Homo sapiens: one gene and its partners. The protein of the gene in region 1 purifies or fractionates together with the protein of each later gene. This does not show direct contact. Each region holds a gene or a part of one and is shown in the gene's direction. Other genes may lie near its edges.

Evidence for each region.
Region 2: the proteins of EPM2A (region 1) and CLUH purify together in Homo sapiens (affinity purification with mass spectrometry, with the first as the bait; one large-scale study listed by BioGRID). This does not show direct contact.
Region 3: the proteins of EPM2A (region 1) and ANKMY2 purify together in Homo sapiens (affinity purification with mass spectrometry, with the first as the bait; one large-scale study listed by BioGRID). This does not show direct contact.

What each region holds. Positions count from the first base shown.
Region 1 is NC_000006.12:145,624,727-145,627,595, reverse strand, and holds the end of EPM2A (laforin), read left to right. Parts: coding exon 1-180; 3' UTR 181-1,871; coding exon of another isoform or gene 1,872-1,901; 3' UTR 1,902-2,291; downstream 2,292-2,869. UniProt on the Homo sapiens protein: Plays an important role in preventing glycogen hyperphosphorylation and the formation of insoluble aggregates, via its activity as glycogen phosphatase, and by promoting the ubiquitination of proteins involved in glycogen metabolism via its interaction with the E3 ubiquitin ligase NHLRC1/malin.
Region 2 is NC_000017.11:2,705,120-2,708,772, reverse strand, and holds part of CLUH (clustered mitochondria protein homolog), read left to right. Parts: intron 1-256; exon of another isoform or gene 257-274; intron 275-997; exon of another isoform or gene 998-1,032; coding exon of another isoform or gene 1,033-1,600; intron 1,601-2,122; exon of another isoform or gene 2,123-2,139; intron 2,140-3,653. UniProt on the Homo sapiens protein: mRNA-binding protein involved in proper cytoplasmic distribution of mitochondria.
Region 3 is NC_000007.14:16,600,755-16,604,407, reverse strand, and holds part of ANKMY2 (ankyrin repeat and MYND domain-containing protein 2), read left to right. Parts: intron 1-1,898; coding exon 1,899-2,028; intron 2,029-3,462; coding exon 3,463-3,647; 3' UTR 3,648-3,653. UniProt on the Homo sapiens protein: May be involved in the trafficking of signaling proteins to the cilia.

The sequences.
Region 1 (2,869 bases):
TCCACCGCGGCTGTCTGCGGCTGGCTCCAGTATGTGATGGGCTGGAATCTGAGGAAGGTGCAGTATTTCCTCATGGCCAAGAGGCCGGCTGTCTACATTGACGAAGAGGCCTTGGCCCGGGCACAAGAAGATTTTTTCCAGAAATTTGGGAAGGTTCGTTCTTCTGTGTGTAGCCTGTAGCTGGTCAGCCTGCTTCTGCCCCCTCCTGATTTCCCTAAGGAGCCTGGGATGATGTTGGTCAAATGACCTAGAAACAAGGATTCTACCTGAACTGAAAGGACTGTGTGACCTCCCCCAAGCCAACCACTTTCACCTGGGATGACTTTCGATTATGCTTTGTTTTGGGGCTGTATTTTTGAAATACTCTACAAGAAAGCTGTGGCTCAACACATGAGAAGAAGCACGAAGCAGTTAGGCTGTACATCAGACAGAAGGGTAATGCGTGCAGTTCCTGCTGCCTGCAGGCAGACGAGGCCTTTGCTTTACAGCACTGTATGTGTTGCACGATGGATCCGTGACAGCACTTTCCTGTTGCACTGAAACTCTTGGCCATGTAGAGGAAAAGATATGGAGTTATGTGGATTTCATCACTAGTATGTGTGCGTGAGCTGGTCAGTTGCCAAAGGAGGAAATAAGGTTAGAAGCCTGAACCGTTACAAAAGAAGAGCTCACTATGGTCAAAAAGTGATGGCTTTCAGGACTTGTTTTTTATCCTGCCTCACAGTTGTTAAAGTCTGTTCCAAGGCATCACCTTCCTTCTCTACCCAACAACCCTGTGTAACAACTAAAGTAGAATTATCTCTCATTTGTTGTTGTTTTTCCTCAAAATTACCAAACAAAGCAAAAAATACCCTTGTTTTTTATAGTTGAGATGTCAAGAAGTTAAATTGAGGCTTAATGAGCATAGGTAGCTTGTCCAAGGTCTCATGACCAGTCAAGGGCAAGCTGGAGTTAATAATCTATATTTATTTGACTCAGCACTGTTTTCATCACAACTTGTTTTCCCAGCATCATGTAGTGCATTTAGTTTTGTCTTTCTCAGGGTATAGTCAATATGCCTGCAGGAGTTTCTATAGCGAGACATAGAATAGTATTCTGATCAGTTGCCAAAGAATCTAGGAAATTAGTTGTATTTTGTGCAAGCTAATTTAAAAACATGATGGGCTGTTTTAAGACCAGAGTGGAAATTCATGAGAGGAACTATACTACCAAAAGAGCCCAAATGACCAAATCCATGGATAATTGCTTCACAGCCTTGGCCATCCTGGCTCAGCTCTCAATTTAGTATAATATGCAGTTCCTGTGCCTCCAGACTATGCAGCTCATCACCCTAGGTTCTACAGGAAATACAGAGATGAACAACTTTGCCTTCAAAAATGTGCTGCCTAGAAACAGACCTGCATTCAACCAACTGTAATGCAGGATTGGACCATGAATGATATGCTAGAATAGAAGAAAGAGAAGTGTTTTTTTAATTGAGAGCCTCTATGTGCAAGGTGATATATAATCATATCCAGTTTAATCTTCACAATATCCAATGAAGAAGGTCTCATTATCTCCATGATAAAGATGGGGAAACTAAGGTCAGAAGGGTTAACTCAACTGTCTATTGTCACATGATGAATAAATAGATGAAGTGAGATACAAAGCTGGGTTTGATTCAAAGCCCTTACTTTCCTAATTAAACTATGATGCGTATTTATTTTTCTGCACCTTCCTTTCTTCCACAAACACATATTGATAGATGCAAGAGACTCTTATTTAGAAGGCGTGGGGGACAAGAAGGATACAAGGTAAGTTTCAGTGGAGCTCAGAGGACGGGGAGATAGAACTGTGGCACTTAGGGGAGATGACATTTGCTTTGGGCAGAGGCAGCTAGCCAGGACACATTTCCACTATAATTTTACAAAGTTAAATTTATAAGCTAGCATTAAGTAAAGTGAAGTCCAGCTCCCTTGCTAAAAATAACTAGAGGTAATAATTGGTATTCAGGTAACTCATTTACAGTCATAATGTGTTGTGAAAATTTAATCTTAAAAATTAAATTTTTAAACTATGTGGGTCTGTGAATTTCTTTAATGTCTAAGAAATCCAGCTTCATAATTTCCATGATACAAAGATCTTTTTTCAGGTGGATTTTTACCTTTGTTCCTTTTGCTCTGATAGACAAAATCAGTTTAGGACTATTAAAGAATGTTTTGGAATAAACTGTCTTTTTCCTCAATGAATGGGATGTCTAATGTATTTCAAAATCACCCAAAACTTTTGGCAAATAAAAGCATTTAAAAAGACCTTTCTGTACAGGATTTTTAAAATGTTATCAGCTTAGTCTGAAATCTAGAAGGACAAATTTTGTTTCCTTATTTGTAAAGGGGGCAATCCACTGAGCTAAATTGTTTATTTTTCTTGTCACTCTTCCTCTTTCAATTAAACGATCAAAATTGGCAGTTACATGATAAAGGAAGTCAAAGGTGAAGGACCACAGAGAAGTGAGGATGAAAACTTAGAGTGTGTCTGAGAAAATCAAAGCAGATATTATGCCATTAGCTGCTTGTCACTGGTGTTTAACAAAACTTTTCAATCACGGATTTCTCAAAGGCAATCATGAGAAGATCTCATTCATGGTGAAGGAAAGTCTGAATGAGGTGGTTTTCTTTCAGACTTGAAACATTATCTTTCTATCATTCTGCTTGCCAGCATTAGGAAAAATGTAAAACACAACACAAAACACTCTCTTTTGACCATCATTAAGGTGTGGTAAAAATCACTTGGCTTGGTGTAAGAAATAATGATGAAAAATGTGGTTAAGACTTTGGAAATGATAAGAAAGTAATGAAAGGAGAGATTTGAAAGTGAGTTAGGAAATAGG
Region 2 (3,653 bases), on another chromosome or scaffold:
CTGAGTGGGAGTGGGTCAGTGGGAGCGGGTCCATGGGAGCGGGTCGGCGGGAGCAGGTCGGTGGGAGCGGGTGGGTAGCCCGCGCTCAGTGGGAGTGACTCAAAAGCCATGGGCTTGGGCGTCTGACACTCCTGTTTTTTCTTTCCTTTTTTTTTTAAACTTAATCCCAAATGTGATAGTAACACCTGGTTTTTTCTTGCTCTGGGTTGGCTCCTCTTGCCTCTGTGACCTTGGGCAGCTGCTTCCTAGCCTTCTGGAGCCTCAGTTTCCTCAGGTGAGATGGGCTGGCACGGCGGTTTAGGGAGCTGCCGTGGGCTGGGCCTAGCGTGAGTCCTGGCTCTGTGGTAATCAGAGTGCAGGTGGTTGTCAACACTTCTCTGGGGTCACTGCCAGGCTGCCCTGCCCCACCCCTCTCTCCGGAGGGTTAGGGTGTATTTCAGGAGAGGGTAGGAGCAGAGGGGCTCTGTCTAGGCCTGGTCCTTCTCCTCTGGTCATTGTGTGAGACCCAGAACCTTCCATGGGGGCTGTGAAGCAGCCCAGGGTCTGCCTGATCCCTGGTCCTGGAGGGGAGGGGATGGAGTGAGAGCCTGGCTCCCGCCCACCCTGGGTAGGGTGGATGCTGGGGCAGCCCTTACTGGGCACTGGCAGCATGTCAGAGGCCCTGGGAAGGCGCCCTGGCCAGCTGGGCACCTCCTCCCCCGCCGTGCGGCCACTGGCCTCTTGCTGCCAGCTCTGTTCTCCCCTGGGAGAGACTTGGTTCCCTCCTGGCAGAGCCGGGGCTGCTGGGAAGGGAAGATGGAGCCTGCCAGCTTCTTGATGGAGCCTGGAGGCCAGGGGCACGGGTGCAGTTGTCCTCTGGGAAGCTGGGGGCCCATCCCCCTCCCTTCCACCAGAACCAGTGACTCCCAGGAAGGGGCTGGCAGCCAGGTCACCTGCAGGGGGCAGCAGGAGCCAGAGGTCCCAGCCAGGCCCTTGGCCCAGGGACAGTGGGGTGCTCAGTGTCTGGGACTGGTGGGCAGAGGCAGCCACCTTATGGCCTGGACCCGGGTCTGTGCCAGCTGTTGGCGGCAGCTGGCAGAAGCGGTCCTGTTCACCCCCACTGGGATGGGAGCGGAGGAGAGGACCCCCTTGCTGGGCCCTGCCCCTGCCAGCCAGTCTCCTAGGCCCTCAATCTTGAGGGGTCCAGGTACCCCAAATTCTGGGTTCTCCGATCCCCCTAGCGGCTTTGCCGGCAGTGACCCCCTCTCTAGGGGGCATAGGGAGGTGGGCCTGAGTGCTGATAGCAGCTCCCCCTGGGGTCCTGGGGCCACCGGGTTCTCCTGGCCCACAGCCGTCCTTCTGGCCGACCTTGAGCGGGATGCCAGGCAGGGGGAGTGTGCCCTTCCTGGGGCTGCCATGGCAGGCCTGGCCCCACTGAAACCCGAAGCCAGCCGGAGCTCCAGCCCCGGGCCGACTGGCTGCATTAGGGCAAGGGTAGCGGCAGAGGCTGGAACAAGGAACCCGGGCAATGCTGGGGCTGAGCTGGAGAGCTGGCTGCCTTGCTGCCACGGCCATCCTGAGACTCCAGAGCCGAGGGGAGGGCAGCTGCCAACTGCACCAGGTGAGCACCGGGACCTGGTGAGCCAGCCAGCTGCCTGCGGGGGAGATCGCTCAGCCTTCATCCAGGGGTGGGGAGACCTTCGGGGTTCCTAGGAGGAAGGATTAGGGTAAAACATGCTGTCCTGGGGAGAGGAGGCCCCTTGGGAGCCAGCTGCATTCCTTTGAAACGGGATAGGGAATAGGTACCCCCTGAGGGTCGTCTCCCTGGGCTGGGGAAGGAGAGTGGGAGCCGCGGCCACCTTGCCTTGTCGTCCCTCCTTTCTGTCCTCCCATTCCAGACATGCGAAAGAACACAGGCTGTCTCTGTCTAGGTATTTGACTCCCCACTTTTGGGATCTCATAGCTCAAAACTGCTGTTCTATATTGGGTGGGGGCCCTTCCTGCTTCTCCCCTTATTCCAGGGGCTTGGCAGCCAGCACAGCCTTTCTCAGGGACCCTGTGGGGGCAGTTCCTCCACCTGGCTGCCCTGCCTCTTGCTGTTTGCAAGCTGACCGACCACCGCCCCGGCTGTCTTTCTGCTCTGTCACTAGAGTCAGGCAGGTGTGTGGGGCTGCTCACGTGCGAGGGGATTGGGGGTGCCCTTCCTGGGGCGGTTGGATCCTGGAAGGGAGGTCTTTGTACATCCTCGTGGTTCCTGGGAGTCCACTGCAGGCTTGGAGAGGGTGGGGTGGAGAGCCATGACATGCACAGTTACTGAAGGTCCTCAGTGGCCAGAGTTGAGGGAGTGCCGCGGCGTAGGGTGCGGGCTGCAGGAGGGAGTCTGGGGCCCATTCTGACTTGGTTGACCTTAGGCCAGGCTCCGAGCCTTTCTGGGCTTCAAATACCCCTCTTTGGGGTAAGGGGGAAGAGACTCTGAGCTCTTAGAGGTCCTGTTTCTCGTTTGCTCGTGGGGATCCAGGGAAAGGGAGCGACTCTCTCCAGGCCCCCCGGTCTCTGCCTTTCCGTACTGGCCTCATCCCTTCCCTGAGGCTCCTGCTCCGTGTTTCTGGTGGGTCCGGATTGGGACCACACAGTTCTGGGAAAGGCACCTGTCCCCGCTCCTGAGAGCCGGGTGGGGAAGGGGAGGTGGGGTCTAGATGGGATGGGCAGAGCTGGGCGAGCTCTTCTTTCTGGAAGGGAACCCAGGCACTCCTCAGAGTTGGGACCGTTGAACTTCAAGCCAAGCCAGGCAGGTGAGCCTGGCCCATGGACAGATCCTGGGGGCCAAGGTCCTCATCTCCTAGATGGGTGCCCAGGCAGGCCCGTGTCTGCTGGAGGGTTACTGAGAGGCGATCCTTGGCTCCTCAGCGGAACAGGGGGTTCTCCTTTGTTCCACTGGTGCCTGGGTAGGAATGCAAGGTTTTGTCACCTGCTCCCCACCCTGGAGCATGTGGATTGGGTGCTGTCTTCAAATATTGGATGTAGCTAGAGGTTTGCAGTAAGTACTTTATTTGTTGCCTTTTTTGTTGAGCCTGGGCAAGATAGAAGGTGGTGGGTAGAGCTGCTGGTGAGGACGCCACCCTGGGTGCAGCCGAATGTCTCTGGGAATGAAAGGGGGAGGGAGTGTGATTCTGCCATTAAGGGTCATTTGGGCAGGCTGTGGAAAAGGTTTATTTCTCCTAGGCCTTGAAGGGTGAGTCAGTGTTTGCTGTACAGAATGGGATGTCAGGGGCAGCACAGACACAGAAGCACAGCGGTGGGAGGGCGGTGGGAGGGCTGTGGGCGGTACCAGGCTTGCATGGTGTGGTGTCCTTAGACCTCAGCAGGGAGCAGGCAGGAGCTGAGGCTGACTTCAGGTGGGTGCCTGAGAGCGCTGGCCTGAGAAGCTTGGTCTTGTAAGCAGTGGGCTTCCTAGGAGGGTTGCAGGTGGCACTGCTGAAATAGAGGAAATGCCTGCCCTAGGGCAGTGGCTGCAGAGGCCGGGTCCCGTGGGTGGGTTGGGAGATTTAGGGTGGGTGACTAGATAGAGCAGGTGCCAGTTTGAGGAGGAAGATGAGTTCTGTCCCTGCAAGACGAGGCTTCAGTGATGCCTCAGGGACAGCCACATGTTGATGCCTGGGAGGCAGCGGTCTCCT
Region 3 (3,653 bases), on another chromosome or scaffold:
AGGCTGGTGCAGATGTGAAACCTAGAATAGGACAGTTCATAAATATACATTCTTTACTCTTCTGATGTTGACTTTAATGACAGTGTCTTCATCAACATATCCTTGTAAAACTATAGTTTCTGACTGTTACCAGTCTTTAATCCCTATGGACTGTACTGCCCCCTTCTGCCAGAATTATCTTTGTAAAAGGCATATCTGATTGTGTTGTTCTCATATCCAGATACTGGACACATGCATGTGTCCGTACATTCACTTAATCCCATAGGTAGCATCAACTGCCTGTTGACTTTAAGGTTGAAATTCTCCAGCATGTTGTATGAAACCCATTATAATCTGCTGTGACCTACTTCTTCAGCTTCATCTTGTTTAATGACTTACTTCTCTGAACCTGTTTCCTGAATTAAATGAAATTCCAGAATTAAATCAAACTATTTATATTGGTTAATTATTACTGCTTATAAAAACACACTCAAACTCAGTGCTTAAAATGATAATCATTTAGTCTTTCTCTCACAGTTGTGGTTGGCTGTTCTCAGCTGGGGCAGTTGTGCTCCATGTGACTCTCATCCTTCTTGTACTAGCAGGCTAGGCTGAGCATGTTGTCATGGCAATAGCAAAGGTACACATGGGCAGGTAGAAACACAGAAGACCTCTCAAGGACTAGCCTTGAAATTGCCATGTTGTTTCATGCTGTTGGTTGAAACAAATTACATGGCCCAATCTGAAGTCAAGTCTCCTCCCCTTCAGTGCAGAGAACTTTGAAATCATGTGAGAAAGTGTATGAATGCAAGGATGAATGAAGAATTGGGGCCAATAATACAATATATGTATAAGGGCCTACCACAGTGCTTGGCATACAGTAAGTGTTTAATAACATTCATTCCCATCTCCTTTCCACCCCTACTTGCAAAAATATAAGGCCATTTACAAAAACTTCTTGCTGTTCTTGAACATATCATTCACTTCCCTGTTCCTGCATTTTTGTACTAGATATTTTCTCCAGTTAGAATTCTTCTTTCCCATTTTTCTGTCTACCTCGACTCACCACAGCTAGAGTGAGTTGCTGCTTCCTCTATGCCTCCATCACTCTTACATCCTGTACTGTGTTAAGAAATTATGTATTTAGGTGCCTGCCTCTCTCCCTTCTTCCATATCTTTCTTTTTCTTGATGCTAGCTACCTTTGGGACAACTCTATCTTCCTTGTCATTGTACTGTACCAATTCTGGCACATAGCGGGTTCATAATAAGCTATTTGCTAAAGTCTTTGGTAGACTGTTTGTTATATATTCATTATTGTTTTAAAGTAAAGCTACAAACTATAAATCTAAATCAATACAAAGATACTGTGTTAGGCCGTTCTTACGTTGCTATAAAGAAATACTTGAGACTGGGTCATTTATAAAGAAAAGAGGTTTAATGGGCTCACGGTTCTGAAGGTATACAGGAAGCATGGCATGGGCATCTGCTCAGCTTCTGGTGAGGTCTCAGGAAGCCTTCAATTATGGTGGAAGGTGAAGGGGGAGCAGGCATGTCACATGGCAGGAGCTGGAGCAAGAGGAGGTGGGGGAGTTGCCACATACTTTTGAACAACCAGATCTTGTAAGAACTCACTCAGTATTGTGAGGACAGCACCAAGGGAAGGGTGCTAAACTGTTCATGAGAAAACCGCCCCCATGATCCTATCACCTCCCACTAGGCCCCACCTCCAACATTTGGGATCACAATTCAGTATGAGATTTAGAGGGGACAACATCCAAACTATATCAACCACATATTATGGTTTTAAAATAAAGTATGGAAAATGACATTTTTATAGCTTAGTTCTTGGTTTAGTCATAGTTAGGAAATCATACAACCCAAGCTCTGGAAATGAAAATAAACCAACAATTGCTTTCAGGTAATATATTGTGATCAAACCTGCCAGAAAACACACTGGTTTACTCATAAGAAAATCTGTAAGAATCTGAAGGACATTTACGAAAAGCAACAGTTGGAGGCTGCCAAAGAAAAGAGACAAGAGGAAAACCGTATGTATATAAAAACCGAGTTCACTCTGCTTTTTAGTGGAGAGAGAGATGATAGGTGATCTTAACACACTGAAACTGCGTCTTCTCTGGAAGCCATAGGAGCTCAGGAGTGACCGATGTAAGAATCACATTTAAATTTTAATGTGTCCCGTTTTTAAGTTCTTAGGATATAGTCAGCCTGGACATCACTGGAAAACAGAGACATCAAATTCTGAGGGATGTAGCTTATTTCATATTTTACATTCTAGCTTAGGTTACTGCCCTGGAACAATGGGACCCTTAATGGGTATTAACTTATATTCTGCTCATGAAGGATTTTAAAGTCTTTGAATAAGGGAATTAATTAAATTTCCACTAATGGCTACCAGAAGATTTTAAGGGTGGAAGCCTTTAAATTCCTTAATTAAATTTCAGAACTACAGGTGAAATTACAGAGTATATTTATAAATCATTCATTAAATTGCAGATCTAATATACAGATCAAATTTCTACAAGTGTCATAGCAGTGAATTTTGTATTTTTTTTTCTCCATCCCTCTTGAGGTTTTGTGACCCATTTTCATCAGAAATAGTGAGTTGCTTCAGCAGTGATTATCAGATTGGAGAGGAGAACTGCCCCCACCCTCATGCCTCATTCCAGAGAATGTATCATATGTTCTGGGGGAGTGCATGTAATTTGAAAAAGATGCCTCGGTTATTCTGATACCAGGCATTTCTGCCTCCATCTCTCAAGGAACCATATCCGCTTTACTACTGGGTTGAGATATACTCTCAGTGGAATTAAATGGTTTGTACACAATTAAACCATTTATCCTTAAGAGAATAGTCAGGCTTTCTGACTGCCATGCCTTCTCTTGTTTTCTTGACCAAACTTTTTTATTCTATGTGCTAAGGACAGAAAGTAACAAATGTTCATTACTAACACACTATTGAGGGAGAATAAGATTGTCAGTAGAATGGGCACTCCCAGTTGTTAAGCATCATTCATGCACCAAACACTGCTCTAAATGTTACAGACAACTTTATTCTTCACCAATGTAGGATAGCCTTTATTACCTGCATATTATAGACAAGGGAAACAACTTCATGCAGGCAATTACCTCTCCAAGGACATCAAATAAATTCACAGAAAAGCTGTATTCAAATACAGGCTTTGTCAAATCCCAAGCAACAATCTTGATTTAGAGATGGCTTTGGAGCCAGCGGCCTGAGTTCAAATGCTGGTTCTGCTGTTTCACTAGCCAGGAAACTTGCAGCAAGCTACCAAACCTCTCTCTTCTCAGTTTTCTCATTTGTAAAATAACGTTAGCGATGACAGTAGAGATACTAATATACCTCATGTAGTTGATAGGAAGATTAAATAATACATGTAAAGCATTGAGAAGAGTGTCTGACACATGGTAGGAACAAAATAACTTCTTCTTTTTTTAATCAGACGGCAAACTTGATGTCAATTCTAACTGTGTTAATGAAGAGCAACCAGAGGCTGAAGTAGGTATCTCTCAAAAGGATTCCAATCCTGAAGATTCCGGGGAAGGAAAGAAAGAATCTCTTGAAAGCGAAGCTGAGTTGGAAGGCTTACAGGATGCTCCTGCAGGGCCACAGGTGTCTGAGGAGTAAAAGCCA